7 linked regions of the Homo sapiens genome follow. The protein of the gene in region 2 purifies or fractionates together with the protein of the main gene of each other region. This does not show direct contact. Each region holds a gene or a part of one and is shown on either strand. Other genes may lie near its edges.

Region 1 (4,376 bases), on a different chromosome or scaffold from region 2:
GTGAACTGATAGTATTTTCCAGATTTCTGGGAGAAAAAACAGCACAGCCTTGACTAAACTGCATGGTCTGGTGATCTATGATTAAGAATTACAGTAATTTTAATTCCAATTCTGTCAACTGAATATGAGAAAATAAAATCCTTTTAAAAAATCTTCACAAGCACCGTAGGATAATACTATTTAAAAGCAGTGGAGCTCTTGCCATTTTCCAGGCACAACTTAAATTTTTCATTTATTATATCATTTAGTTCTCAAATGTTATTACTATCTTCATTTTGCAGAAGAGGAAACTGAAAGATTACAGCGGTCATTCTTAATCAGCTATACATTAGAATCACCTGGTGGGCTTATACTAGTTACTGATCCCTGGACCTAATCCCAGATTTATTAAATCAGAAACACTATTGTGGTATCAGCATTGGTATTTTTTTTTAAAAAAGCATCTCAGGAGATTCTAATATGCAGCCAGGGTTGAGAATCAATGGGCCAGATAAACAGGTAGCAAGAAGCTTGGACTTCAATCTCTAAAGGTCCAGTCTTAACTGCTCTTAACTATCATGCTATTTTGCTTTAAACTCCGATTTACATTTTTGTCACCATGATTAAGGTTAGAAAAATACTAGTCCACAGAAAGAATCTTTTACTTTGTCTAGCTCTTGAGGAAAGAATGACCTGAGTGCTATCATAGTGATGGCTTAGCTATGCTTACCTAGCTGTATTTTAAGAAGATTATACTGGTCTTTGTGCTGCTGGATCTGTGATACTTGCTGTGTGACTGCCGTCTGGAGCTGTTCATTTTGACATTTTAATGTAGAAACCTGCTGCCTTAATTCCTCAAGTTGGAGATCCTGTGAAACAAAACATAATTCATGTGTTTTAAAGTCATACTCGTTAGCATTAAGAAGGTGAACACATTTTAAAAATTAGAGGTCATTTTGGGACAGTATGCTAAAGTGCTTAACACTTCCAAAATCGTTCAGTAATTAAGCAACTTGGTGTGTTAATATATCCATCAAGGCCAATTAACATGCAGCAGAACTACAAGATTTCAAAGAAGGCTCCATTAATAAACATCATGGCATAGCCTGCAATTATAGTGGGAAATAAAATGAAAAAACTCCATTTTATGGTCATAAAACCATTTAAAAATTTACATCAAACTATTTAAGAAATTTAGTATATGTATGTATACATATGCTTCTATATTATTTTTAATATTAAAAGCCAATGAGAAAATAAATATAGGAAATTGAAAAAAGAGCTTCCAACTTTTACCATCATAATAAAACTATAGTTGGAATTTGATGTATTTTTTTTCTTTTTTTTTTTTTTGAGACGGAGTTTCGCTCTTATCGCCCAGGCTGGAGTGCAGTGGTGCAATCCAGCTCACTGCAACCTCTGCCTCCAAGGTTCAAGCAATTCTCCTGCGTCAGCCTCCTGAGTAGCTGGGATTACAGGCGCCCGCTGCCATGCCCAGCTAATGTTTTTGTATTTTTAGTAGAGATGGGGTTTCACCATGTTGGCCAGGCTGGTCTCAAACTCCTGACCTCAGGTGATCCACCGGTCTCAGCCTCCCAAAGTGCTGGGATTACAGGCGTGAGCCACCGTGCCCGGCCAGAATTTTATGTATTTCTTTATTTTCTTCTAATTTTTTCCCAATCCATGGTTTAAAATTTGTCACAATAGGTATATATATATAATTATGTAGCCTTTAATTTACTTAACATTCTATCATAATTTCCCCATATTGCTACATAGTTTTCAAACCATAATTTTTAATCCTATCTAATTAAGTAGATGCAATACAATTTATATTCAATGTTTTTGATGCTAAGGTTGCTTTCCATTTTTTTTCTTTTCTTTCTTTCTTTTTTTCTTGGGTTTTTTTTTTTTTGAGACAGAGTTTCGCTCTTGTTGCCCAGGCTGGAGTGCAATGGTGCGATCTCGGCTCACTGTAACCTCCGCCTCCCAGGTTGTTCAAGCGATTCTCCTACCTCATCCTCCTGAGTAGCTGGGATTATAGGCATGTGCCACCATCCCCAGCTAATTTTTTGTATTTTTAGTAGAGACAGGGTTTCTCCATGTTGGTCAGATTGGTCTCGAACTCCCGACCTCAGGTAATCTGCCCACCTTGGCCTCCCAAAGTGCTGGGATTACAGGCATGAGGCACCGTGCTCAGCCACTGCACTCCAGCCTGGGCAACAAGAGCGAAACTGTCTCAAAAAAAAAAAAAAAAAAAAAAAAAGAAAAGAAAAAGAAAAATGGAAAGCAACCTCAGCATCAAAAACACTGAATATAAATTGTATTGCATCTACTTAATATTGCTTTCCATTTTTCAAAGTGACAAATTTCATTACATTATATATTTTAGTCCATATAATTGTTTTCCTGAATTTTGGAGAATTCCCTTAGGATGAATTATCAAATGTCATTCAAAGGATATAAACATTTTATAGTTCTAGATGCTTGTGGACTAATGCCAAATAGCATTTTAAATGGTAAGAATATTTAAAATGAACATTTCTAAGGAAGTCATTAGAGTAATTGTGTCAATCACTCTTTTCTTTTGCCAAATCAACTGTATTTGCAGCCCCAAGTATAGACTCTATATCACATTACAACTATTTGTTTTTTTCACTGTTCCAAAGATATTATTACATTTTAGCAACTGGAAATGGCTCCATCTTTGTACCCAGATATAGATGAAAAATCCTAATAACCATAGGTAGTTTGATGATTCAAATTTTACCATTCTAAGATTATAATTTATTGATTGATTTACTTTTAAACTGAAAAGCTTAGAATGAATGCTAAATATACCACAATATTTTCATTCTTTCTTAAAATTTTAATCTCAGTAGGCTGGGCGCGCTGGCTTATGCCTATAATCCCAGCATTTCGGAAGGCTGAGGCAGGGAAGGGAAGGGATCACCCGAGGTCAGGAGATCAACACCAGCCAACATGGTGAAACCTCATCTCTACTAAAAATATAAAAATTAGGCAGCGTGGTGGCACACGCCTATAATCCCAGCTACTTGCGAGGCTGAGGCAAGAGAATTGCTTGAACCTGGGAGGCGGAGGTTGCAGTGAGCCGAGACTGCGCCACTGCACTCCAGCCTGGGAAACAAGAGCAAGACTCTGTCTAAACAAAAAACAAACTAATCTCAGTAATGTAGATTGTGAGGAAGAAAATAAGATATAAACAGTTGTCAATTTAAAGGGTTCTATCTATGCTTTTACTTGCCACACCTGCCATAAACTGTGCACAATTAGTAGACAGGTGTGGAGAGCAGTAGAGGGAAGGGGATGAATCTGTCCCACAGGGTCTGCCACTATTGTATTTTTTTATGACACTGGAATTTTAACAACATTAATAACCTCATTTTTCAGCACTTTCTAGAATTCCAATCAAGGTAAATATCATAAGAAATTAAATGAGAGTAAAAGTCAAGAAAACATTTTGAAGGAATATAATGAAGGTTTAGGGTACTCAACACAATGCAAGTAATGAAAGTTCACTGGTATCCTGGAAAGAAAATGTCAACTGATGATTCCGCAATTGTAGTTTCATCTTTATCCACTCATCATTATCTAATAAATCAGCTGCATGGTGCTTAGCACATATTAAGCACTCTGTTTGTTGAATACTCAGATGCTTTGAAAAATGATGGGTTTTGCTTTCTATATCCTCTTTCATTTGAAATGTCAGAAAAAAAGGCTCCCTTAAAGCAGAAAGTGCCTATTGGTAATCAGAGGGTATATACAGTTCATTAGTACTTACCTGCTCTCGAATCATATTTTTGTAGTGAGTCACAATATTGTCATGCTGTTCTAATGTTTTTTTCACCTCTTCTTCTTTTTTATCTTCTTCACTGGACTTATAAATAGCCTTAGTTATAACACCTATAAAAGGAAGCTTATTTAAAATTTGTTTTAAATGTTTTAAATACTATTTTACTACTAAGACTTAGTAAAAACATATAACCTAACTCCATGATAGGTAAGAAATAATCTTTTCAATCCTACTGAAAGCCAAATGTCCTTCAATGGGCTACAGATCAAGAGCTAGGAAGAAAATATACCTTTAGAGTTACCATATAACCTGTATGCATCCAGAATATACATGTACAATATAAATATAATTACTTTCCATCAAATATCAATATAAATCTTCAGTCTTACCTTCAAGTTCTTTTACCAGCTTCGTAAACTCATGATCAAATATCATGTATTCTGGACTGGGAAAGTTTGGCTGGGGTTTCTGAGATGCTCTGGAATACAACTCATGTTTGCTAATAAATCCTAGTTTCTCTATGAAATTCTCTTTGCCAATCCTCTTCTCAATCAGTTGTTTTAGCTTCTCTCTACGGAGATAA
Region 2 (3,214 bases):
ACTGCCTGCGGGACATGTGAGCGGCCGCCTCCACACCCCTGTCCGCCCGCCCCGCCCTCTTCCTCCAGCCCTGGCCCGGCCACTGTCCCTCTGCCCGGGGAGGACCCAGCTAAGCCCCGTCTGCAGACCCCAGGCCCCGCGCGCGTGGGCAGTTCTGGGGGGAGGCCCGGGGCAGGGTCGCCGAGGGAGGGGTCTGGGGCTGCACCGCGGCCTCGGGAAGGGCCGGCTGTGGGCGGCGGCGAGTGTCCAGGGCGCCGAGGAGTGACCACCCCACCCCCGCAGACCCCAGCGCCTGGTGAACGTGGTGCTCGGAGCCCACAACGTGCGGACGCAGGAGCCCACCCAGCAGCACTTCTCGGTGGCTCAGGTGTTTCTGAACAACTACGACGCGGAGAACAAACTGAACGACGTTCTCCTCATCCAGGTGGGCGGGCAGGGCCGCGAGGGCTCGGAGGGGCACGGCCAGAGGGCTCCGGGACCCCCATTCCTGCAGCCAGCATTCATTGAGCACCCACTGTATACCGGGCCACGACCGAGGCCGCTGCAGCCTGGGTCCAGTGGCACTGGCCGGGGGAGACCGCTCCTTGGACACCAGGCCACTCCTCCTCCCCGCCTCTCCCCCGCCCGCGCCTCTCCCCCGCCCGCGCCTCTCCCCTGCGCGCCTCTCCCCCGCCCGCGCCTCTCCCCCGCCCGCGCCTCTCCCCCGCCCGCGCCTCTCCCTTGCCCGCCCCTCTCCCCTGCCCGCGCCTCTCCCCTGCATGCCTCTCCCTTGCCCGCCCCTCTCCCCTGCCCGCGCCTCTCCCCTGCGCGCCTCTCCCCTGCCCGCGCCTCTCCCCCGGCCGCTCCTCTCCCCCGCCCGCGCCTCTCCCCCGCCCGCGCCTCTCCCCTGCGCGCCTCTCCCCTGCCTGCCCCTCTCCCCTGCCTGCGCCTCCGCCCGGTGTGCTGTTCCCCCAGAAAGCCAGGTGCCCTCGCCTCCTCCGGCGCCTCCCCTGACCTCACTGGAAGTGGCGAGGACAGCCACAGCCCTCCCCGATTCACTGTTCTCCACTGAACCGCGTGCTCCTCTCATTCATGGGGCCCTCCTAGCCTCCTCCCACCCAGAAAGATCAGCTCCCCAGGGCAGAGGATTTTTGTCTGTGTTGTTCGTTATTGGACTCATGTGGCTTAGAACGGGACTGGGCATACAGGTGGTGCTCAGTAAGTGCTTGGGGCTGGGCACTGTGGCTCACGCCTGTACTCCCAGTACTTTGGGAGGCTGGGATGGGAGGATCACTTGAGGCCAGGAGTTTGGGAGCAGCCTGACCAACCTAGTGAGACCCCATCTCTATAAAAGACATTTTTTTTTTTTTTTTTTTTAGACAGAGTCTCACTCAGTCATCCAGGCTGGAGTGCAGTGGTGCAATCTCGGCTCACTGCCACCTCTGCCTTCCAGGTTCAAGTAATTCTCCTGCCTCAGCCTCCTGAGTAGCTGGGATTACAGGCATGCACCAACACGCTTGGCTAATTTTTGTATTTTTAGTAGAGACGGTGTTTTGCCACGTTGGCCAGGCTGGTCTCGAACTCCTGACCTCAAGTGATCTGCTCTCCTCAGCCTCCCAAAGTGCTGGGATTATAGGAGAGAGCCACCGCGTCCAGCCTACAAAAGAAAAATTTAAAAATCAACCGGGCATGGTAGCACACGCCAAGCCACTCATGAGCTGAGATGGGAGGATCACTTGAGCCCAGGAGGTTGAGGCTGCAGTGAGCTGTGATCATGCCACCACACTCCAGCCTCGGCGACAGAGCAAGACCCCATCTCAAAAAAAAAGTGCTTTGAAGATGAATGAATGGGCCAGGGGCGGTGGCTGTAATCCCAGCACTTTGGGAGGCCGAGGCGGGCGGATCGCCTGAGGTCAGGAGTTTGAGACCAGCCTGATCGATATGGCAAACCCCGTGTCTACTAAAAATACAAAAATTAGCTGGGCGTGACGGCAGGTGTCTGTAGTCCCAGCTACTTGGGAGGCTGAGGCAGCAGAATTGCTTGAACCCAGGAGGCAGAGGTTGCAGTGAGCCGAGATTGTGCCACTGCACTCTAGCCTGGGCAACAAGAGCGAAACTCCATCTCAAAAAAAAAAAAAAGAAAAGAAAGAAAGAAAGAAAACATGAATGAATGGCCGGGCACTATGGCTCACACTTGTAATCCCAGCACTTTCGGAGGCTGAGGAAGGCAGATCACTTGAGGTTGGGAGTTTGAGACCAGGCTGGCCACCTCACCCAATGGGATGGCTCCGGGAGGTTCCAGTGAGCCGAGATCACGCCACTGCATTCCAGCCTGGGTGGCAGAGCAAGACTCCATCTCAAAAGAAAGAAAGAAGGAAAGAAAATGAATGAATACAATAGTGACAAATGGGACAAAGGGGGTCGTGGGGCCCAGGCGGAGGGAGCGGCATCCGCGGCGTTTTGAGGTGGTGGGTGTGGTGGGTGTGGTGGGAGGGCGGCCCGGGCGGCCACCGTGACCTGGAAGCAGCGTCTCACCGCCGCCTGCCTTCTGCCCCAGCTGAGCAGCCCAGCCAACCTCAGTGCCTCCGTCGCCACAGTCCAGCTGCCACAGCAGGACCAGCCAGTGCCCCACGGCACCCAGTGCCTGGCCATGGGCTGGGGCCGCGTGGGTGCCCACGACCCCCCAGCCCAGGTCCTGCAGGAGCTCAATGTCACCGTGGTCACCTTCTTCTGCCGGCCACATAACATTTGCACTTTCGTCCCTCGCCGCAAGGCCGGCATCTGCTTCGTAAGTAACCGTGCCCCCACCCCGGGCACCGGGCTGCCATGAGGGGAGGAGGGCGGCGGCCAGGGTTCCACGCCACCTCTTAGCTGTGTGGCTTCATGCTGTGCCTCAGTCTCCCCACCTGGAAGGTGGGCACACCCAACACCCAACGGGCAGGCTCAGCGGGGTGGGGGCGCTCACATTGCACCTGGCTGCTTGGGTGGGTCTGGGGGTTCCCTGCCCCCCACTCCCCTCTAGGACCACAGGAAGGTGTGGGAGACCCATCCGCCCTCACCGGCGGCCCCTTCCAGAATCCAGGACTCCAGGTATCCAGCGGGAGGCCCATAAATGCCCAGTTCCTACGAAAGACCTCAGCCCCTCCCTGCTCACACTTTTTGTTTGTTTTTGAGACGGAGTGTCGCTCTGTTGTCCAGGCTGGAGTGCAGTGGTGAGATCTCAGCTCACTGCAAC
Region 3 (4,376 bases), on a different chromosome or scaffold from region 2:
GAGTTGCCCAGTGCACTGCTCCAGATATTCTTGATTGTATTCGTGGAGAGAAGACAGGATCATAGAAGACACAGAAGCTAATGGAATTCTTCAAAGATAACTGATCTCACATCTTTGGCCTTTATACTTTTGTATGCTTAATCGTCTCTGTTAACTGGCCACAGGAAAAAGTACCTTCTCCCACAGTTTATCCTCAGAGCATTTCTGTGATAACGCAATCTCAGAACTATAGGGCTAGGACAAACCTTCTAGATCATCCATACTCCTTTCTTCATTTTATATGACTAGCCCTATGATCCACATAGAGTAGGCACATAATAAGTCTTCTGTTGATAATGACAACATGCCAGGGCAAATCCAACACCAGGATTTAAAAATCTGTGAGGATAGTCATACCTTTTAAGACTGGAGGACAGCTGCCAAATATCATCAGGATCCATTCCTGTAGGATCTTTCCTGTGGGCCACGAGAAAGATGCTCTTCTCCTTATATGAGGTATAAATGGTCAGAATCCCCATCATCACAAAATAGGTTCAAATAAAGTTAAGGGGAAAATACCCAAACATAAAAGAGAAGTAACACAAATTGACAAGCAACAGATATAAAAACTTTCATAATGATAGTCCTAAAGAAGACAGCTTTGTCTTGCTGCCAAAACACTGAAAATTTAGCTATTTCATTTTCATCCTTATGTTTATATACCAAGAGAAGCAAGGCTCTCTCTGGTTAATTCTGCAAACACCTCAGAAAGGAAGAAAAGAAAAAGATACAGAGCATAAACTAGCTCTCATCTTTATGTTCAAAGACAACATGTATAATAAGATACCTAGTTTGTCAAGACTTTGTTATAATAGTGCTTATTTCTTTATAAAAAACAACGAATAGTCCCAGTGGACTTGACCATGTTCAACTGATTTTAAGGGTTATTAAGAGAAGAAAAGTGACCCAAATAGTTTACTATAAGAGAGTATGTCAAATAGTACTACGATTACTTCCTATATGCATATAGACTTATTATTATATTGTTTTTGACAGTATTAAGTACCATAGTTAATAAGCACTTATAGTTTGCCAAAAACTGGCATAAGAGCTTTGTGTATACTGTGCCATTTAAATTTCATAAACAAGGCTGGGCACGATGGCTCACACCTTTAATACCAGCACTCTGGGAGGCCGAGGCAGGTGGATTGCTTGAGACCTGGAGTTTGAAACCAGCCTGGCCAACAAGGAACAATGGGAGACCCCATTTCTACTAAAAATACAAAAATTAAGGCTAGGCGTGGTGGCTCACACCTGTAATCCCAGCACTTTGGGAGGCTGAGGTGGGCAGATCACTTGAGGTCAGGAGTTCGAGATGAGCCTGGCCAACATGGTGAAACCCCATGTCTCTACCAAAAATACAAAAATTAGCTGGGCATGGTGGTACATGCCTGTAGTCCTGCTACTCAGGAGGCTGAGGCATGAGAATGGCTTGAACCCAGGAAGCAGAGGTTGCAGGGTTGCAGTGAGCCGAGATCGTGCCACTGTGCTCCAGCCTGTGTGACACAGCAAGACTCTGTCTCAAAAAAAAAAAAAAACAAAAAAAACCCACAAAAACCAAAAAAAAATTAGCTGGATGTAGTGGTGCAGGCCCGTAATCCCAGCTACTTGTGTGGCTGAGGCAGGAGAATCACTTGAACCTGGGAGGCAGAGGCTATAGTGAGGCAAGATCGTGCCACTGCACTCCAGCCTGGGCAACAGAGTGAGACCCTGTATCAAAAAATAAAAATAAAATAAATAAAATAAAAATAAATTTCATGAACAGTGCTCGCTTCGGCAGCACATATACTAAAATTAGAACGATACAGAGGTTAGCATGGCCCTAGCACAAGGATGACAGGCAAATTCATGAAGCATTCCATTAAAGAAGAGTTAAAAAATAGATAAATTTCATGAACAGGAAAGGCAGGAAAATATAGTACAAAGTATATGGACTTTAGAGTAGAGATAATCCTAGATTTAAATCTTGGCCTTTAATCAGTATGATTGTAACAAATAACTTCCTTCCCCAAGTCTTAGTATCCTTACCTTTAAAATTGGGATAATACTGATGTTTTAGAATTATCATGAGATTTAGAGATGAAGGATATATGCAGTCTAGGATACAGAAGACTTTTTTTTTTGAGACAGGGTCTCACTCTGTCACCCAGGCTAGAGTACAGTGGCATGATCTCAGCTCACTGCAGCCTCAACATCCCAGGCTCAAGCAATCCTCCCATCTCAGCTTCCTCAGTAGCTGGGATTATAGGTGTGTGCCACTACACCCAGCTAATTTATTTTTTATTTTATCTAATTAATTTATTTATTTTGAGACAGAGTCTTGCTCTATCGCCCAGGCTGGAGTGCAGTAGCAGATCTCGGCTCACTGTGACTTCCGCCCCCTGGATTCAAGTGATTCTTGTGCCTCAGCCTCCCAACTATCTGGGACTACAGGCATGCGCCACCATGCCCAGCTAATTTTTGTATTTTTAGTAGTGACAGATTTCTCCAAGTTGCTCAGGCTGGCCTTGAACTCTTGGGCTCAAGTGATTCGCCCGCCTTGGCCTCTCAAAGTGTTGGGATTACAGGCATGAGCCACGATGCCCAGCAACAGAAGACATTTATAATGGTAGTCCCTACATTATAAATAAAACTGACATGACAAAAATAAGACCTTGTTTTATTAAACAAATATAACCAAACAAATGAATTACCATCAAGGTAGTTCTCTTGGGAGGCCAGATATTTGTAATAATGTTGCTATCATTTTCAAATCTCTTTGGAATTCCCCTGGGAACTGTCTCTAGAACCTATGGAATATTATTCTTCTGAACTGCCTTAATAGTGAAAAATTCATACTGGGATGATTAATCTGATTACTGAAAGGAGTCAAGGATCACCTGGTGCCACTTCTGGGGGAAATGTGGGGCAATCTGGATAATACAATTTTTGACTAGGATCTGCTTTATCAGAGGTTTGCTAACTGCCTCTGAAGATAAATCCCCAACATGAAGTTTTAAAACATATTTCAGGTTGGCTGGGCACAGTGGCTTATGCCTGTAATCCCAGCACTTTGGGAGGATTGCTTGGGCCCAGGAGTTTTGAGACCAGCCTAGGCAACGTAGTAGGACCTTGTCTCTGTAAAAAATTTAAAAATTAGGCAGACATGGTGGCATGTGCCCGTCTACTCAGGAGGTTGAGGTGGGAGAATTGCTCGAGCCAGGAGGCTGACGCTGCAGTGAGTCATGATCACACCACTGTACTTCAGCCTGGGTGACACGGTAAGACCCTGTCTCAAAAAAAAGAAAACAAAACAAAATTTAGGTAGTGGTAACATTGTTTAAAAAAGTAAACTACCAACCAAAATTACCTATTTTAATAGTGAAGTATAATTAAGTTCTTTATATTCAACTTCTTGAGAAAAAAAATCACGCTGGGTAGGCAACGACCATGATCTTACATTTATCATAAAAAAGAGGGGAAAGGAAATGATTATGTATCAAATACAATATAAAATCTCTCATTTAATCTTTATGATAATTCTGAATGCTACCCATATTTATAAATGAGTGGTATTCAAATCATCTCAAAAATAAGTAAATTTTCATTAGCACAAGATCACAGATACCTTGGATTTCAAACCCATATTCTCTAGCTCCAGAATAAGTTCTTAATTCCACTGTAATACAAGCCACACTTGTATCTCATGCTCAGTACTTTCCAGTTCAGCTCCTCAGCTTCAAGTAAACTTAATACAGATCTGAGTCTCCAAAATCAGATCCTTTCCTAATATCCTAGAATGAGTGGCTTGAAGCAGCCACGTCTAACGGGAAAAGTTCTGGGCTAGAAATGAGAAGAGCTGGGTTCACTATTACTATGTGTTTTGCTATTAAGTGCTCATATTAGGACAATAACCTCTACATTAATAACAAAAATGAATTACGATAAAATAACCATACAAAACATAAAATATCAGTGACAGTTACTATATAAACTGATAGATATTTACTATATAAACATCACAGCTCAAAATGTTGAATTCTAACATTAGCAAGCCCTAATATGAAAGTCCGTTTTGTTTTTTGTAGGGAGAAATATCAGCAGATTTAAAAAAATAGTCACTAGAAAACAACCTGAGCATAAATAAAGGATATGATATGACACACAAAGCCAAAACGGGTTTGGACTCTGGAAAGGGGTGCATATAATCCCAAATCAAAGCCACTATGGCAAAGAAACAGGAGATTGTACAGATGGTGAGGCGACCATCAATTAGACCAAAATTCTCCACATATTTGTATTTTTCCAGAAGTACCTGGTGAGAAAAACAAGGAATCAAGCTAATAGGAATACTTCCT
Region 4 (4,376 bases), on a different chromosome or scaffold from region 2:
AGTACTAGAAATAAGTGAATTTAGAAAGATAGAAGGATACAAGGACATAATAAAAAACTAAAATTTATTTCTCTGTACTAGCAACAATTTGAAAATTAAGTTTTTTAACATTCCATTTACAATAACATGAAGAAACAGAATACTTGTAGATAAATTTAGCAAAAGACTTCTACACTAAAAACTCCGAATCACTTCTGAGAGAAATTAATAAAGACCTAAGTAAATGGTGAGACATACCATGTGTATGTATTAGAAGGCATCTATTTTCTCTAAATCAAACTAGATTCCATGCAATTTCAATCAAAATCCAAACAGGTGTTTTGTAAAATTGAAGAGCAGGTTCTAAAATTTACACGTAAATGCAAGTAACATAGAATGAGCAAAACTTACACCACTTGGTTTCAAAATTTTCTATACAGCTGTGATAATTACAACAATTTTGTACTACTATAAGATTAGACCAATGGAATAGAGTCTAGATAAGAATTCAAATTATGCTCACAAAAAGACGTGTAACAAGAATATTTATGGTAGCATTATTCATTAGATCTCAAAACTGGAAATGATCCAAACGTGCAACAACAGTAGATAAATAAACAAACTGTGTTATATTTATATAATACCTACTTAGAATTTTAAAAATTGAACTATTGATACACACATATAGATGAATCCCAAAAATACCAATTTGAATAAAAGAAGCCAGACACAAGATTCCATTAAGTCACTCATTAAGTGACTCAATTTAACTGAAATTCAAGAACAAGCCAAACTATGCTACAGTAATAGATATGCAAACAATAATACATGAGATGGGAGTTGACTTGAAAGAAGCACAAGGAAACTTTCTGGGGTGATGAGAATATTCTCCAACTTAATTGAGGTAAATAGGTGCATAATTTTACCAAAATTCTCTGTACTATAATTTATCAAAATTAACTATGCACATACAATTTCTGTATTTCACTGTAAATTTTAAAGAAACATGTTAGAACTTATGTCCACAAGATGTCATTAAGAATGTGAAAATGCAAACCACAAAGAGAAGGTATTTGTATTCATATATCCAACAACAATAATAAACTGTATCCAAAAAACTACAGAACTCCAACAAATCAATAGAAAAAGATGACCAAATAAAAGAATGGGCAAATAATCTGAGTGGGCATTTCTTTTGAGGATATTTAAATGCTCAATAAGCACATAAAACAGTGTGCAACATCATTAGTATTAAAGAAATATTAATAAAAATCACAATAGGATACCATTACACATCTACTGGTTTGGCTAAAATTAAAAAGACAATGGAAAGTGTTCAGGAGGATGTGAGACAAATGGGAATCTTGAATACTGCTGGTGAGGCTGTCAATTGTTACAGCCTCTCTGGAAATATGCTTGGCATAGTGTACCAAAGTTAATAAAGCTTAACCTGCTTTTATACATTTCATTTTCACTCATTTCTATAAATACTGGCTTGGGTAAAGCCACATAATAGTAAGCATCACTTCCATGTAACAAGAGATTAGATACATTCTAGGACAAAACTGGCCAACTAACAGGCAGGTAAACCCTGAATATCATTTACATGCCATCAATGGAATGATTTTACAAGCCAAGTGATATCTTCAATATACCTTATAGGAATAACATAGTCAATGAAATATCCATAGTACAGAAAAACTTATGGGTTTACAAGTGGTGAAAGAAAAAAATCAGGAGAGAGAATAAATACCAGAAATGTGGACAATATCAGAAAGTATGTAGCAACATGTTAAAGCATGAAACCTTGATAAATTTTTAAAAAGGTTATTAAAATTCATTTTTATCCTGTACCAATCACATTAAAAAGAGTGAGAGTTAAGGAAGGCACGTATCTATCACATGCCTCCTTTTGACGTCACCGGAAAGGTAGCAAGCAAGGTAGATGACACCAGAATCTCTCTTATTAGCAGCACAAGAAACATTGCCATAATAGATGGAAGGTAGCAACTATCCTTAAAACCGCAAATGAAGCCATATTATGCTACAAAAGCAACGACAATAAATCTATGCCCAAACTGCTTGCCTAAACAGGGTAATGTGTTAGGAACACCAGTCAGAAGTCTTAAAACAGCAAAGTACACCATGAATGCCAGAGCATTCTAATAAAATACTATCAAACAGCATTCTGAAGTCTGGAAACCAGTTAAAAGCTACAGGCTTAATGATACCGCAGTGCTCCTCAATTTGAGACTCATTAGTTAAAACTGGCCCATAATCTGGTGCTCACTCAATCTATTGCAGGGTCAAGTCTTAGGACAAGTAATTGCAACCCCTTATGAACAACAATTCTTAGGTTATTTACCACAACAAAATACACTTTTTAAAACCTCACATAGGCATAAACTATTACACAATTAAAATATTAGTATTATATATAAATACCCACAATTACTCATTCCTATTACACTATTTTAAATAACAACAACAAGCAAATACTGCAAGATATTTATTCAATCTTCACTAAACATCTATTTGTCAGGTTCTATGCTAAGTGCTTAGAGATACAGTATCCCTCAGTGTCTGTAGGGATACAGAAGTAAGTATCATATAAACTGCTCTAGAAAATTAGTCCAGCATAAGGTAGGAAAAAAATCAGCTAATTATAATATACTAAGTATGATATCATCTCTCTTAACTGACCTCCACTGAATTGCCTCATAGTATTAACCAAAGCCATGTATTCCTATATCTAACGCCCATGGAAGACCAAATGGTCCAGATCAAGAGGCTTCATTCTTGCACACCCTCACACTTTTGCTCCCACAAACTGAGCCTTATGCTTTTTATGCTTATTAAGAGTCAACTATGTTTGTTCTCAAATTTGTTTATGCCAGTTTCATTTTCTATTGCAATTAAATAATTTAATATTTAAAGTAATGTGTTGGAAATCTTCTATGTTTTGCTACTAATAAGTGAAAACTTGAGCAAACCAATAAGTAAAAATGATGACTTGATCTAGAACAGTGGCTCCCAATCTACTGTATATGGGAACTCCTCTTTAAGTTCTAAAACTAAGCTGTAGAAAATGGCAGCCCCTAACCACATAAGGTTATGAAGCACGTAAATGTAGCCAGGGCAACTTGAGGAACCTAATTTTTACTACTATTTAATTTCAGTGTAATTATTTAGCATCAGAAGTAAGATGTGTCGTACATGTAAAACATGCCAATTTTCAAAAATTTAGTGTAAAAAATATAAAATATCACTTTAATAATTTTATACCGATTACATGTTGAATATTTTGAATATACTGGGTTAAATAAAATATATTATTAAAATCAATCTTACGTATTTCTTCCTTTTTATAATGTGGTATCAAGAACATTTAAATTTATATGTAGCTCATATTACATTTCTATTGGTGAGTATGGTCTAAAACGTTCGATGATCTGTTCAAATAGCTATTGGTTATAAAACTGTGTAACAAAAAGTTACCATGAAGCTGGTCCAATGATTTCATATTTTACTAAATCACAACAGCACCCACAAATAATGCTTAGTGCACATGGAGATTTTTGGATTTTCTGAAATAACTCTGGCCTAAAGTTTGAGAAATACTGCCTAGAATTCCTATCACAATTGGTAATGACATGAAATTCTTAAGATAAAAAATATTAATTCCTAGAATAAGGTTTTCAGTGGTCTTATGATTAATCAGACAATTGTATTTATATTTAGGTAGAAATGAACTTATCTTTCATCCCTGCAGAAATACCACTATGTTTCTTCCTTCCAACTTCAACTATCCTAAAAATCAGTAACAAGAAGCTTTTTTGACATTTTCAAAGACATGCAATTTATAGCACAAAAATAACCACTGGTGATTGGGTCTTTTAACTAGATTACCAAACTTTTAAACTCTATTAAAATTACATTTAAATAATAACTCCTTTGAGTCTTCAGTCTTACATTATCATTTTGTTCTCCCTTTTTCAATTCTATCAATTAAAGTAAGTAAATTCTTATTAGTACATATAAAAACGTCCTTGAAGTTCTGGTTTTATTTCTCCTTAATACTAAGTTAATGAAAATATAAAGCAAGGCATTTGCATAGTATGCCTGATAAGAAAAAAATCAAGAACAGGCCAGGTGCAGTGCCTCATGCCTGTAATTCCAGCACTTTTGGGAGGCCGCGGTGAGTGGATCACCTCAGGTCAACAGTTCCAGACCAGCCTAGCCAACATGGCAAAACCTTGTCTTTAAAATTAGCTGGGCGTGGTGTCACATGCCTGTATTCTCAGCTAGGCAGGAGGCTGAGGCAGGAGAATCCTTTGAACTTGGGAGGCAAAGGCTGCTGTGGGCCAAGACTGCACCACTGCACTCCAGCCTAGGCA
Region 5 (4,376 bases), on a different chromosome or scaffold from region 2:
GGTTGTGGTGAGCCAAGATCATGCCACTGCTCTCCAGCCTGGGTGGTAGAGCAAGACTTTGCTCAAAAAAAGAATTTTAAAAAGTTGGAAATATTTTAACATTATTCAAACATTCACTTTTTTATTTTTATTTTTTGAGCCAGAATCTTTCTGTGTCACCCAGGCTGGAGTGCAGTGGCACTGTCTCAGCTCACTGTAACCTCCGTCTCCTGGGTTCAAGTGATTCTTATGCTGCAGCCTCCCAAGTAGCTGAGATTACAGGCATGAGCCACTATGCCTGGCTAATTTTTCTATTTTTAGTAGAGATGGGGTTTCACCACTTTTTTTTTCTTTAAATGATGGCTCAACTGTGGCTGGACATTAAAATCACCTGGGAAGGCCAGGCACAGTGGCTCATGCCTGTAATCCCAGCACTTTGGGAGGCCAAGGCGGGCAGATCAGTCGAGGTCAGGAGTTCGATACCAGCCAGCAAGATGGTTCAATAACAGCCGTCTCTACGAAAACTACAAAAATTAGTTGGGCATGGTGGTGCATATCTGTAATCCTAGCTACTCGGGAGGCTGAGAAAGGAGAATCGTTTGAACCTGGGAGGTGAAGGTTGCAGTGAGCCGAGATCGTGCCACTGCACTCCAGCCTAGGCGAAAGAGCAAGACTCCATCTCAGAGGGAAAAAAAAAAAATCACATGGGAAGCTTTTAAAAATACTGACAATGTGCCTCTACCTTACAATGGCTGGAGATAAGGCCCAAGTGTGAGGTTTCTTTCTTTTTTTTTTTTTTTGGTTTTTTTTTTTGTGAACAGAGTCTCACTCTGTTACCCAGGCTGGAGTACAGTGGTGCGATCTCGGCTCACTGCAAGCTCCGCCTCCTGGATTCATGCCATTCTCCTGCCTCAGCCTCCTGAGTAGCTGGGACTACAGGCGCCCGCCACCACACCCGGCTGATTTTTTTGTATTTTAGTAGAGATGGGGTTTCACCGTGTTAGCCAGGATGGTCTCAGTCTCTTGACCTCGTGATCCACCCACCTCGGCCTCCCAAAGTGCTGGGACTACAGGTGTGAGCCACTGCACCCGGCCAGGGTGGGTTTTTTTTTTTTTTTTTTTTTAAAGCAATCCAGATGATTTCAAGGTGAGACCCAGTTTAAGAATCAGTGCTCTCGGCCGATGGCCCAAGCCTGTAGTCCCAGCACTTTGGGAGGCTGAGGAGGGCGGATCACCTGAAGATGGGAGTCAAGACCAGCCTGACCAACATGGAGAAACCCCATCTCTACTAAAAATACAAAATTAGCCGGGCGTGGTGGCACATGCCTGTAATCCTAGCTACTTGGGAGGCTGAGGCAGGAGAATAGCTTGAACCCGGGAGACAGAGGTTGAGGTGAGCCGAGATCCTGCCATTGCACTCCAGCATCCAAGAACAAGAGCGAAACTCTTTCCCCGCCAAAAAAAAAAAAAAGAAAGAAAGAAATGTTGTCTCAGTTCCTACCCTTTTCAATCAGAATATGCATTTTGATAAAATCCCCAAGTGATTTGTTTGCACATTAAAGACTGTGGGAGCAGTGCTTTGAGCCAGTAGTTCTCAGTGGTGACCAAACATTAGAATTACTTTTTTACTTGAGGAGTTTTTTTGTTTTGTTTTGTTTTTTCTTTTTTCTTTTTTCGAGACAGAGTCTCGCTCTATCACCAGGCTGGAGTGCAGTGGTGCAATCTTACTCAAGGAGTTTTTAAACAATTGATACCTTGGCTCCCCCTCAGAGAGATTCTGGGGTAAGTCTGGCTATTAGTGTTTTTAAATAAAAGATTTGACCGGGCACAGTGGTTCACGCCTGTAATCCCAGCACTTTGGGAGACTGAGGCGGGCAGATTACCTGAGGTTGGGAGTTCAAGACCAGCCTGACCAACATGGCGAAACTCCGTCTCGACTAAAATTATAAAATTAGCTGGCCGTGTTGGTGCATGCCTGTAAACCCAGGTACTCGGGAGGCTGAGACAGGAGACTCACTTGAACCCGGGAGGCGGAGGGTGCAGTGAGCTGAGATTGCGCCATTGCACTCCAGCCTGAGCAACAAGAGGAAAACTCCGTCTCAAAAAAAAAAAAAAAAAAAAACATTTAAAAGTGCAGCCAAGGCTGAGAAGCACTGCACTAGCCCAGTTGCAGTGCTGCTTTTGCTGTCCCTGGGGCAAGAGGTAGAACTCCAAAGCTTCTTAAAAGTAGGACAGCAATGAGTAGAGAAATATTTTCTTAAATAAATGAACTATACATAACATTTTTCTGGCAATTTTGCAGAAGGATCTAATATAAAACAATATTGACACATTTTCATGGTTTCTCTCCTATAGGCTCAAACTGTCCAGGTTGCTGAAGTTGAACCACAGTCACAGCCACAGCCTTCCCCAGAACTTCTGCTTCCAAATTCTTTGAAGCCAGAAGAAGGGCTTGAAGTATGGAAAAACTGGGCCCAGACCAAGAATGCTGAACTAGAGAAGGATGCTCAGAACAGATTGGCACCCATTGGGAGTGAGTGTCTTGGAAGAAGAGTGGGCTGTGTCTAAAATGCAATGGTACTAAAGTAACAGGAGGACAAAATGCCAGAAAAGTGGTGTCTCCTGTCTTGGGGACAAGAGAGCAACATCTGTAATAGTATGTTGAATTCAAGCCTAGTAACAAGCAGTACTGACCTTGTGTACATAATAAGCAGGATATGTGGGGTTTGCCCAAAACCAGGCATTTTTAGACATACGGGTTTCAGGAGTTGACCCTACCAGACCTAAGCAGAGTGGCTTCTGGGAGGAAATGGGAACCAGGGATAGGCACTCAAGCCCTTCTTTCTTGGCATTAGGCTCATATACTCATGTTATAGGCCAGTTCTGACATTACAGGCATGAAACATTCTAGTAGATACAAGTGAGCATTTCTATCCCAGCACCCTGATGGGCAGTATCTGTTCTGAGCCTTCCAGATATGGACCCCCAGGACCTTCATTCATTTTTGAGGCTTCCGTTGCAGGGCGCCAACTGCTGCGATTCCAGGAAGATCTCATCTCCTCTGCTGTGGCAGAGTTGAATTATGGGCTCTGTCTAATGACACGGGAAGCTCGAAATGGAGAAGGTGAACCCTATGACCCAGATGTGCTCTACTATATTTTCCTGTGTATTCAAAAGGTAGGAAACAGATCTTCACAAGAACATGTTTGAGCTGTGTTCCTATTGGATGTTTGCTAGTTTAGTTAATAAATTGATAAGCAAGAAGTTAAAATAAGGAAGTTCTCTTTCAGGTATACAGTGAGTTTTAAAATACACATTTGTTGTTTTTTTTTTTTTTTTAAGTTTTAAAAACCTACACGTTCACTTTAGAAAATAACAGCCGGGGCCGGGCGCTGGTGGCTCACGCCTGTAATCCCAGCGCTTTGGGAGGCCGAGGCAGGTGGATCACTTGAGGTCAGGAGTTGAAGACGACCAGCCCAGCCAACATGGTGAAACCCCATCCACTAAAAATAGAAAAATTTGCCAGGTGTGGTGGTGCACTGCCTATAATCCCTGCTATTTGGGAGGCTGAGGCATGAGAATCGCTTGAACCCGGGAGGTAGAGGTTGCAATGAGCTGAGATCACAGCATTTTACTCCAGTCTGGGTGACAGAGCGAGACTCTGTCTCAAAAATTAAAAAAAAAAGAAAAGAAAAGAAAAAAAATAAGAGCCAGGCAAGATGTCTCACACCTGTAATCCCAGCACTTTGGGAGGCTCAAGGCAGGAGGATCGCTTGAGCCCCAGGAGTTTGAGACCAGCCTAGGCAACATAGTGAAACCCCATCTCTACAAAAAATTAGCTGGGTATGGTAATGCATGCCTGTAGTCCCAGCTACTTGGGAGGCTGAGGTGGGAGGATTGCTTGAGCCCCAGAGGTTGGGGCTGTAGTGAGTCATGATTATGTCACTACACTCCAGCCTGGGTGACAGAGTGAGACCCTGTCTGAAAAACGAAAAGAAAAAAAATTAGCTGGGTGTGGTGGCACACACCTGTAGTCCCAGCTATTTGGGAGGCTGAGGCAGGAGGATCCCTTGAGCTCAGGAGTGCGAGGCTGCATTCAGCTATGATTGTGCCATCACACTTCAATCTGGTCTACAAAGCAAGACCTTGCCTCTTAAAAAATAAATACATAAAATAAATAATAAAATAGGAAAACAAACATTATTCATCCTACTACCTAAACTTCTATTACATTATTGGTAATTACCTTGACTTTTTTTTTTTTTTTTTTTTTTTGTAATTCACAAAGCATTTATGTAACACTTTTCTTTTTGTTAAACCTGATTTTCATGAAGGTAATTTATTCAAAACAGAGTCTTGTGCCAGCATAGAGGTTTTCTTCTCATTGTTCCCTGCAC
Region 6 (4,376 bases), on a different chromosome or scaffold from region 2:
ACAGGTACGGTTTCTGCTTTTACTAAATGTGCAGTCTAGTGCATTACAGACACAAATCAAGTAATACAAGTCTGTAATTATGAGTTTATGTAAGAGCTAGAAAGGGAAAGAAACCTGGTCTTATAAGAGCCTATAACAGAGGGACCTAATATAGAATAAGGAATCAGGAAATGACCCTTCATTTCCTGAGAGCTTTTAAGGAAAAAATTACTTAGTTTTTCTAGTCAAATCTCAATACTTGTAGGATAAAGTCCAAGTCTCTTAGCTAGTACTGATAGAATTCATTATTCATACAATAAGTATTTTAAGACATTCCTGGCCGGGCATGGTGGCTCATGCCTGTAATCCCAGCACTTAGAGAGGCTGAGGCAGGCAGATCACTTGAGCTCAGGAGTTCAAGAGGAGCTGGGGCAGCATGGCGAAACCTTGTCTCTACTAAAAATACAAAAGCTAGCTGGGCATGGTGATGTGCACCTGTAGTCCCAGCTAGTCAGGAGGCTGAGATGGGAGGATTGCTTGAGTCCTGGAGGACAGAACTGCAGTGAGCTGTGATTACACCACTGCATTCCAGCCTGGGTGACAGAGTTGAGACCCTGTCTCAAAAAAAAAAAAAAAAAGACATTTCTTCTTTTACTGTAAAAACTATATTTTAAATAGTTTTCACTATAATAGTAATACCTTATAGTAGAATAAAAAATAAAAATCACCTGTAAACTTAACACCAGGAAATAACTGCTGTTAATTTTTTGACATATTTCCTTTTTTTTTCTTTTTTTGAGACGGAGTCTCGCTCTGTCGCCCAGGCTGGAGTGCAGTGGCGCGATCTCGGCTCACTGCAAGCTCTGCCTCCCAGGTTTACGCCATTCTCCTGCCTCAGCCTCCCAAGTAGCTGGGACTACAGGTGCCCGCCACCACGCCCGGCTAATTTTTTGTATTTTTAGTAGTGGCGGGGTTTCACTGTGTTAGCCAGGATGGTCTCGATCTCCTGACCTCATGATCCGCCCGCCTCGGCCTCCCAAAGTGCTGGGATTACAGGCATGAGCCACCACGCCCGGCCGACATATTTCCTTCTAACGTGTGTTAAAAACTTTTTTGGATCAAATATTAATATTTCTTTTTCTTTTTCTTTTCTTTTTTATTTTGAGACAGAGTCTCACTCTGTTGCCCAGGCTGGGGTGCAGTGGTGCAGTCTTGGCTCACTGCAACCTCTGCCACCTGGGTTCAACCAATTCTCCTGCATCAGCCTCCTGAGTAGCTGGGATTACAGGTGCCTGCCACCGCGCCTGGCTAATTTTTGTTGTATTTTCAGTAGAGACGGGGTTTCACCATCTTGGACAAACTGGTCTTGAACTCCTGACCTCGTGATCCACCCGCCTCAGCTCCCAAAGTGCTGGGATTACACGCGTGAGCCGCTGTGCCTGGCCTTTGTATATTTTCTTTTGATTGACATGATTTTTATTGGGTGCATATTAGTCCTCTGAGTGGATTAATTTACAAGTATTTCCTGCAGTTGGGCATTAAGGTAACTTCCAGTTTTTTTAGCTTCGTAAATATAGTATACATTTCATGCAAATTTTTGCTTGCCTGTGGATATATTAAATTTTTCCTCTTTGGTAAACATGTAAACTTGTTTCTAGAGCACTGATTTTCAAACCTAGTAATTGTCATTTGACTGACCTCCCCCATGAATTAGTGTATGAATTGATACTGCATTTAATTTTAAAGAGGAATTAGTAAGAAGCCTCAGATGAATCATAGATTTATTATTACTATCTTAAAACATAATTATTAGTTCATATTAGTTCATAATGTCACTGAAGGAAAAAATCTGTTGCCTTTCCATACAGTTTGACTAGAATTAACTCTAGTACTCTAGCAGTACTTCCAGGTGTTTAGAGAGCAATGTTGCTGTTAGATTGCATCATACTTAGCTTATATAAGAAGTCAACTTAGAGTAAGAATAATTCTTCTGAAAATGTCTTTGACTGAGACTTGACAGTTTTCATTTACTGATGTTGAGCATGTTGCTACTCAAAATTCAGTTCTCTTTTTAATAGGCCTTCTTGACCATTGGATTTAAAGATTGGTGACTAGTTTTAAGACCTGTCACTTATACTTAAAGTTGACATATTTACTTGCAATTTCTTGTCAGCTGTCCATTAAAACTTGTTTTAGTTTCATGAACCAAGTTACCAAATAATATTTTCTTTTTTTGTTGGGGGCTGGGGGGGTAAATCGGAATTCCTAATATATTTAAAGGAAAAGTTTATTTAAATAGGTCAGTTATTGTGGGTAGGAGAGAGATGATTGGTTTCATAATTTTATTTATTTATTTATTTTTGAGATGGAATCTCACTCTGTCGCCCAGGCTGGCGTGCAGTGGCGCGATGTCCGCTCACTGCAACGTCCGCTTCTATGTGATTTTTGTGCCTCAGCCTCCTGCGTAGCTGGGATTACAGATGTGTGCCACCACACCGGGCTAATTTTTTTTGTATTTGTGCTGGGCTGGTCTTGAACTCCCAACCTCAGGGTTAGGAATTCAAAGGGCTGGAATTACAGGCATGAGCCACTGCACCCAGCCCATAATTATCTTTAATAGTATCATTTTAGTCTGTCAGTTTTTATTTGTGCCCCAAATTTGTTTTATTCGTTTTATTAGAGATTCATCAATTCTTAATTTACATTTTATAGAAGGCAGAATGCTTTTGTTGGGTAAGCAATAGATATAAATGAATCAAAACCTAAGAATTCTTGAATGAAAGAAGATTATTTCTCTTACCCCATATCCATAAATTAAGCTAGCAATACTAAATGTACTGAGTCCTCTCTGGTCAAATTGTTAAAATATAAAAAATACCTTTTTAAAGAAATTACATAATAATAGGAAAAAAGGTGTGCTGTTGTATTTAGAAGCTTTCTCCCTACTTCCTAGGTTTATTTCCAAAGTTGAAGAAGTCTTGAATGACTGGAAACTGATTGGAAACTCTTTGGGAAAGCCACTCGAAAAGGTCAGATCTATTTGCTGGTGTCTCTAAATGACTATTTACTTTGAAACCTCTATTTTCCAGCCCTTTGCTGCATTTGGCACATTTGAATTAAATGTTTTTTAAAGTTACGTATAATCTATAAACATCAAATAGCATTTGGAAGAATTTGGATTTAAATCTGTGGCAAATGATATATGTAAGACATTTGTGAAATGTTTAATAAAGTTATATATATGTGTGTGTGTATATATATATATATAAAATGTCATTCTTTGTGAGTGATTCTTTGTGAGTGAAGTTTGCTTCTCTTTTGCCTTCTCCCTTGGAATGTTAAAACATGTTTTTAAAAGTTTTTTATTTGGTCAGAGAAACATTGCAGTGACCATCTTCTTTGGTAGCATATTTTGCTTACTAATGAGGAAAATTCTAGTACTTACCATTGACTTACTGTAGTTAACAACTATTTCACTCAGTTTTTGTATTTTATAATATCACTAATAACATCCCCCTTCCCTTTTAAGCTTTTTAACTTATGGATGTTTTAAGGATTTTATTTAAGAATGAAAAAATTACTCTTTGAAATTGAGGTAGAAATCAAATTCTAATCTAAAGTATTGGTAGTTTTATTCATAAACCACACCCCAAATGTTTACTGAAGAATGTACTCTGAGAACAAACCTGGATTCACTGTGAAGGGATCTAACAATTTGATTTTAAGTTTATGTAGATGCTTAGTTTGTTAGATAAATTCTTTTGAAATAAAATTTATGGTTGGTTTTATTACAACTCAATATTACTAACTCAGTGATAACTTATTAACTCAGTAATTATTAATTCAATAGTAATTTAATTATAATTTACCCTGTGTTAGGAACTTTGAGTTCTCAATATTTGCTAGGGGTTTTCAGCTTTGTGATGGTGATACTATCAAAAAAGAGACTGTCAAAATGCATTAGGAAGCCAGGCAACATGGTGAGACCCTGTCTCTTAAGGAAAAAAAATCTCCTTATTTGTATCAATATGAACAGAAAAAGTAAGACCACATATAAAAAATACATCATTCAAAGACTCTTGGCAATATATACATTGATTTACTACACTACATGTGTGAATAAAGAAAATGTGACGCTTTCAAACACGGGTCATTCTACTCCACTTGAAACAAATACATAACAATTGATATAGATGCCAATAAGATTAGAGGCAAAATAAGCTGGATATAGCTAGAATAGGAAATGATTTACACTACTAAGAAGAGAGCTAAACCGGGTACTTATGAGCTCTGATATTCTTTCATTCTTTGATTTACATGTATTTACTGAGTACCTGCTATGTGCCTGATGTGAAGAAATTGTGAACAAGATAAGATCAGTGTTGCCATTGAACATA
Region 7 (5,119 bases), on a different chromosome or scaffold from region 2:
GACTCAGGGAGGCCTGAGACCTCTGTCGGCCAGAGAACAGCAGTCAAGGTAGCCAGAGACCCTGGTTGAAAGACTTCACCCGCTGACTAGAAATGTGGTCAGGGACTGACGTAAACAAGAGTCTGGCCACGTTTTTGTAGCGTGGCTGTGCTGTGCTGAGGTACCTCTTCCACCCCTTGTCAGCTTGGGCTCTCCAAAGCCCGCAGGCCAGAATGGCTAGTCACCAAAAGAGCAAAGGTGGGGGCCTGCCCCTCTCCGGGAGCTCTGTCCCAGGAACATTTCACATTTCCATTGGCCAAGGAATGCTGGTGGGGGTAGCTGGAGGCCCCAGTTGGGAGGTCCTGTCCAGTGAGGTGGAACAGGATCAGGGGCCTGCTTACAGAAGCAGTCTGGCCATGATTTGGTAAAGCAGCTATGCTGTGCTGTGGGATCTCTTCTGTCCCTCGTCGGTTTGTACTCTCCAAAGCCCGCAGGCTGGAATGACTAAGTTGCCTGAACGGGAAAGATGGCGGCCTGCCCCGTCTTTTCTCTCAGAGTTTTATCTTGTTTCGTGGAGCTTAATTTTTAGCCTGTTGATTTTACTGTCTACATTAGACTTGTTGAGAAAGAATCTGTTCTCTTTTAGGTGAGATAAATGAGAATTCATTGTCTTCTGTAAATAAACCTGTTCATGTCTTGTTCTCTGGAAAGAAGTCTCTTTCAGCTATCTGACTTTGGTCACAATCATGTAGAGCAGCAGCCAGTCTACAATGACGTAATTGAATTTCCATTTCCAGTGTTTCCTCGTTGTGTCTTACATTGTCCAGTTCAGAACTGAGCATTTTATTCTCAGTTGTCAACATGCTAAGCTGTCCACTGTACTGAAATACTGTGCTTCCTCAATTTTTTTTAAGGTGTGCACTTTTATCCAACTCTCCTCAAGTCAGAGTACAGGTAAGCCCTGGCTGCCTCCAGCCACTCTCAGGGAGACCAAAAGCCTTCATACACCCCAAGTTGGGGTACAAAAGAGGGGGGCCACGAAGGCTGATCATTCAAAATAAAACAAAATTAAAAAGTATTAAGGCGAAGATTCAAAAAATTTTGCATTATGTAATTTGCACAAAAGCAATGCTATCACCTCCCCTGTGTGAACTAGGGAGAGGACTGGGCCATTCTCCTTAGAGAGAAGTGGGATGGCTTTTAGCAGGGCAAGGGGCTTCCTGAAACAATGCGTCTCACAATATTTGGAATGACTATTGAAAAGAAGAACAATGTACAATCAAAGTCCTTGGCAACATTGTAGAACTTTGGAGGAAGCTTCCTCCAACCGACTGCTGTCACCTTCACCATTCCGGTTTTTAAATCCTGAGTCAAGCCAATAAAAAACAAAACAAAAAATGAAACAAGAAAACAAATAAAGCCATGCCAATCTCATGTTGTTTTCTGAGAAGTTTGGTTTTGTCAAGAAAGGGTGTAACGCAACTAAGTCAGAGTCCACCTAGAAGCATTTGCGGTGGACAATGGAGGGGCCTGACTCATCATACTCCTGCTTGCTGATCCACATCTGCTGGAAGGTGGACAGCGAGGCCAGGATGGAGCCACCGACCCACACGGAGTACTTGCGCTTGGGAGGAGCAATGATCCTGATCTTCATCATGCTAGGCGCCAGGGCAGCGATCTCCTTCTGCATTCTGTGGGCCATGCCAGGGTACATGGTGGTGCCGCCAGACAGCACTGTGTTGGTGTACAGGTCTTTGCGGATGTCCACATCAGACTTCATGATGGAGTTGAAGGTAGTTTCATGGATGCCACAGGATTCCATGCCCAGGAAGCAAGGCTGGAAGAGCGCCTCGGGGCAGCGGAACCGCTCGTTGCCGATGGTGATGACCTGGCCATCGGGCAGCTCGTAGCTCTTCTCTAGGGAGGAGCTGGAGGCCGCCGTGGCCATCTCCTGCTCGAAGTCCAGGGCAACATAGCACAGCTTCTCTTTGATGTCACGCACGATTTCCCGCTCGGCCATGGTGGTGAACCTATAGCCACGCTCGGTGAGGATCTTCATGAGGTAGTCAGGCAGTTCCCGCCCAGCCAGGTCTAGGCGCAGGGTGGCATGGGGGAGGGCATTCCCCTCATAGATGGGCACAGTGTGGGTGACCCCGTCACCAGAGTCCATCACGATGCCAGTAGTACGGCCAGAGGTGTACAGGGACGGCACGGCCTGGATGGCCACGTACATGGCTGGGGTGTTGAAGGTCTCAAACATGATCTGGGTCATCTTCTCGCGGTTGGCCTTGGGGTTCAGGGGGGCCTCGGTCAGCAGGATGGGGTGCTCCTCGGGAGCCACACGCAGCTCGTTGTAGAAGGTGTGGTGCCAGATCTTCTCCATGTCATCCCAGTTGGTGATGATGCCGTGTTCCATGGGGTACTTCAGGGTCAGGATGCCTCTCTTGCTCTGGGCCTCCTTGCCCACATAGGACTCTTTCTGATGCATGCCCCCCATCATGCCCTGCTGCCTGGGGCGCCCCACGATGGAAGGGAAGACAGCCCGGGGGGCATCGTCGCCCGCAAAGCCGGCCTTGCACATGCCAGAGCCGTTGTCAATGACGAGCACGGCGGTATCATCATCCATGGTGAGCTCATTCAATTGTAGAGCCTTTAAAAGATTATCATTCTTTTTTTTCACACTTTCAATATCCTCCAAATATTTCTTTTCTCTTAGCTGGCTCTGATGTTTCATTGTGTCTAGCTCCAGTCTTAGCATGGCAATTTCTTCCCGCAACGTACTATTTTCATGCAAGACGTCTTTTTCTTTCTTACAACTAAGAGAAAGCTAAGTAAACAAAGAGAACTTTTAGTTAGCACTCAATAGATTGACATATCATGATTTCTTCTGAAATTCAAAAATAACATGTATTTGTATAATGAAAGAATCCCCATAGTGGATATTTAACTGGAAAAAAATTGGACAAAACTTCAAACCTAATAAGAGTGTAAATTCCTCCAGTGATTTATTTTTCATCGTCTTTAAATAAATATTTAAACTTTTAGGAATCTGCTCCTAAATTCCTAAAAGTTTAAATATTTATTTAAAGACGATGAAAAATAAATCACTAGAGGATTTTTAAGAATCCCAGAATTAAAAAAGCCTTTTTCTGAGTTACAAAAAACCCAGAGGCATAAAATATAAGATTAATAATTTGACTACATTTTTAAGATTAGGTTTACACTCTGATATCTAACCTATCAACCACACCATCCTAAGAGCCTTAGCTATGCATATATTTGGACAGAAGCAATTTCTCAAAGTTCTTTAAGTTTCTTTTACTGAAGAACGTTTTACCGATATTCTACATTTCTAATATTTCTATACTCAGTTATAAGAATTACATTTATTTATAACTGTCAAATCTAAGCACTGTACCCTTCTACACTGTACACATCTGTATCTAGGCATTGCTCTTCTACATATAATACTGAACTCATTTAAGATCGCGATTCTTAAAAGGAGAGGTCAAAAAATATACACAGATGCAGGATTTTCCCCAGGTCTGCTGATGCTACTTCTAGTGATCCTCCACAAAACCACACTTACTTCTGTGGTGTAAATATATAAATACAAAAGAAACCTTTTGTTTCAAAATATGAATGGTAAATAAGATACAACTTATAGAGATCTTCTTAGAAATCATGAGATTATTTGCCATTGCGGTAACTTTTATTTCCTCTTTATAATGTTTGAAACAGTAGTAATGGTGAAATAGGGGAAATATACTGAACTATTTCTCCAGAAACAAAATACTTATCAATAAATTATTACTAAATGTGTATCATGGCATGTCATTGTTTTCAAACCTCTTTACACTGAAATGAGAAACTACTTGGAGCAAACTGTTCCTCTCTGCAAAAGTAAGGATAATGGTATCCACAATGTGGCCTCTGACCCAGCTATACATTTCCTACTTTCTTATCAGTAAAAATAATCAATTGACTTCTCTATTAACATTTTTTAAAAAACTAATGTCCAAAAACGAGAAAATCTGTTTTCAGTAGCAAAACTTATTTCTGATGTGGAAAGATCATCAATTCTTATGAAAAACATCAAATACTTCTCCTTTGGATTGAGGCCATTGTGCAGGTCACTACTCAACTGTTGCAGGCAAATGAAGGTGAATTAAGAACATGGCTTTATCCTATACGTACGTATATAGATATATGACAAAGGATATATAGAATATATACACACATATATATGACTTAAAAATCCTTTATATTTCCAAAATACAGTTCTTTAAAATATACACACATATAAAAACATTTGAAAATAACTAAAGAAAATACCTCAGAATTCATTTTTTCAACCACTTCTATCTGCTTTTCTTCATGAATCAGAATCTCATCGTGTAATATTCCAGTGTTCTGTTCTTCACAAAATTGCTTCTGAGTATCATTTTGTTCGTCACTAGAAGAAATTTTAATTTTCATGAAATACTGGAGCTGTCCCTAAAATGATGTACAGGGCAAGATGGCGCCATCAGATGTCATTCACACAATGCATATCTGCACATTATTCCAAGACAAGGCAAAGGGGTCTCACATCTGTTAACCAGGTGTCCCCAACCATGCTGGCACCAGGGACTGGTTTTGTGGAAGATAATGTTTACAGGAACCTGAGGTGGGGGATGGTTCCAGGATGATTCAAGTATATTACATTCATTGTGCACTTTATTTCTATTATTATTAATATATAATGAAATAATTATATCTCACCAAAATGTAGAATCAGTGGGAGCCCTGAGCTTGTTTTCCTGCAACTAGATGGTCCCATTTGGGGGTGACGGAAGATGGTGACAGATCAGAAAGGCATTCGATTCTCATAAGGAGTGAACAACCTATATCCCCCTGCATGAGCAACTTACAACAGGGTTCAGGTCACACTCAGGACAATCTAATGCCACCGCTGATCTGACAGGAGGAGGAGCTCGGGCGGTAATGCGAGCGACAGAGAGTGGCTGTAAACAGATGGAGCTTCACTTGCTCACCTGCCTCGAACCTCCTGCTGTGTGGCCCAGGTCCTAACAGGCCAGGGACTGCTAATGGTCTGTGTCCTGTAACCCATACTCTTTATGTTTATTGTTTGGAAACA

The links.
Region 1: the proteins of PRTN3 (region 2) and USO1 purify together in Homo sapiens (affinity purification with mass spectrometry; one large-scale study listed by BioGRID and IntAct). This does not show direct contact.
Region 3: the proteins of PRTN3 (region 2) and SPCS2 purify together in Homo sapiens (affinity purification with mass spectrometry; one large-scale study listed by BioGRID and IntAct). This does not show direct contact.
Region 4: the proteins of PRTN3 (region 2) and LYPLAL1 purify together in Homo sapiens (affinity purification with mass spectrometry; one large-scale study listed by BioGRID and IntAct). This does not show direct contact.
Region 5: the proteins of PRTN3 (region 2) and QRICH1 purify together in Homo sapiens (affinity purification with mass spectrometry; one large-scale study listed by BioGRID and IntAct). This does not show direct contact.
Region 6: the proteins of PRTN3 (region 2) and RAB3GAP1 purify together in Homo sapiens (affinity purification with mass spectrometry; one large-scale study listed by BioGRID and IntAct). This does not show direct contact.
Region 7: the proteins of PRTN3 (region 2) and POTEE purify together in Homo sapiens (affinity purification with mass spectrometry; one large-scale study listed by BioGRID and IntAct). This does not show direct contact.

The regions. Positions count from the first base shown.
Region 1 is NC_000004.12:75,800,606-75,804,981, reverse strand, and holds part of USO1 (general vesicular transport factor p115), read right to left. Parts: intron 4,365-4,376; coding exon 4,183-4,364; intron 3,904-4,182; coding exon 3,782-3,903; intron 849-3,781; coding exon 710-848; intron 1-709. UniProt on the Homo sapiens protein: General vesicular transport factor required for intercisternal transport in the Golgi stack; it is required for transcytotic fusion and/or subsequent binding of the vesicles to the target membrane.
Region 2 is NC_000019.10:843,611-846,824, forward strand, and holds part of PRTN3 (myeloblastin precursor), read left to right. Parts: coding exon 1-16; intron 17-282; coding exon 283-424; intron 425-2,536; coding exon 2,537-2,767; intron 2,768-3,214. UniProt on the Homo sapiens protein: Serine protease that degrades elastin, fibronectin, laminin, vitronectin, and collagen types I, III, and IV (in vitro).
Region 3 is NC_000011.10:74,965,720-74,970,095, reverse strand, and holds part of SPCS2 (signal peptidase complex subunit 2), read right to left. Parts: intron 4,334-4,376; coding exon 4,173-4,333; intron 532-4,172; coding exon 397-531; intron 1-396. UniProt on the Homo sapiens protein: Component of the signal peptidase complex (SPC) which catalyzes the cleavage of N-terminal signal sequences from nascent proteins as they are translocated into the lumen of the endoplasmic reticulum.
Region 4 is NC_000001.11:219,180,035-219,184,410, reverse strand, and holds part of LYPLAL1 (lysophospholipase-like protein 1), read right to left. Parts: intron 1-4,376.
Region 5 is NC_000003.12:49,045,205-49,049,580, reverse strand, and holds part of QRICH1 (transcriptional regulator QRICH1), read left to right. Parts: intron 1-2,334; coding exon 2,335-2,512; intron 2,513-3,001; coding exon 3,002-3,156; intron 3,157-4,376. UniProt on the Homo sapiens protein: Transcriptional regulator that acts as a mediator of the integrated stress response (ISR) through transcriptional control of protein homeostasis under conditions of ER stress.
Region 6 is NC_000002.12:135,055,079-135,059,454, forward strand, and holds part of RAB3GAP1 (rab3 GTPase-activating protein catalytic subunit), read left to right. Parts: intron 1-2,932; coding exon 2,933-3,008; intron 3,009-4,376. UniProt on the Homo sapiens protein: Catalytic subunit of the Rab3 GTPase-activating (Rab3GAP) complex composed of RAB3GAP1 and RAB3GAP2, which has GTPase-activating protein (GAP) activity towards various Rab3 subfamily members (RAB3A, RAB3B, RAB3C and RAB3D), RAB5A and RAB43, and guanine nucleotide exchange factor (GEF) activity towards RAB18.
Region 7 is NC_000002.12:131,261,042-131,266,160, reverse strand, and holds the end of POTEE (POTE ankyrin domain family member E), read right to left. Parts: intron 4,436-5,119; coding exon 4,315-4,435; intron 2,807-4,314; coding exon 1,478-2,806; 3' UTR 883-1,477; downstream 1-882.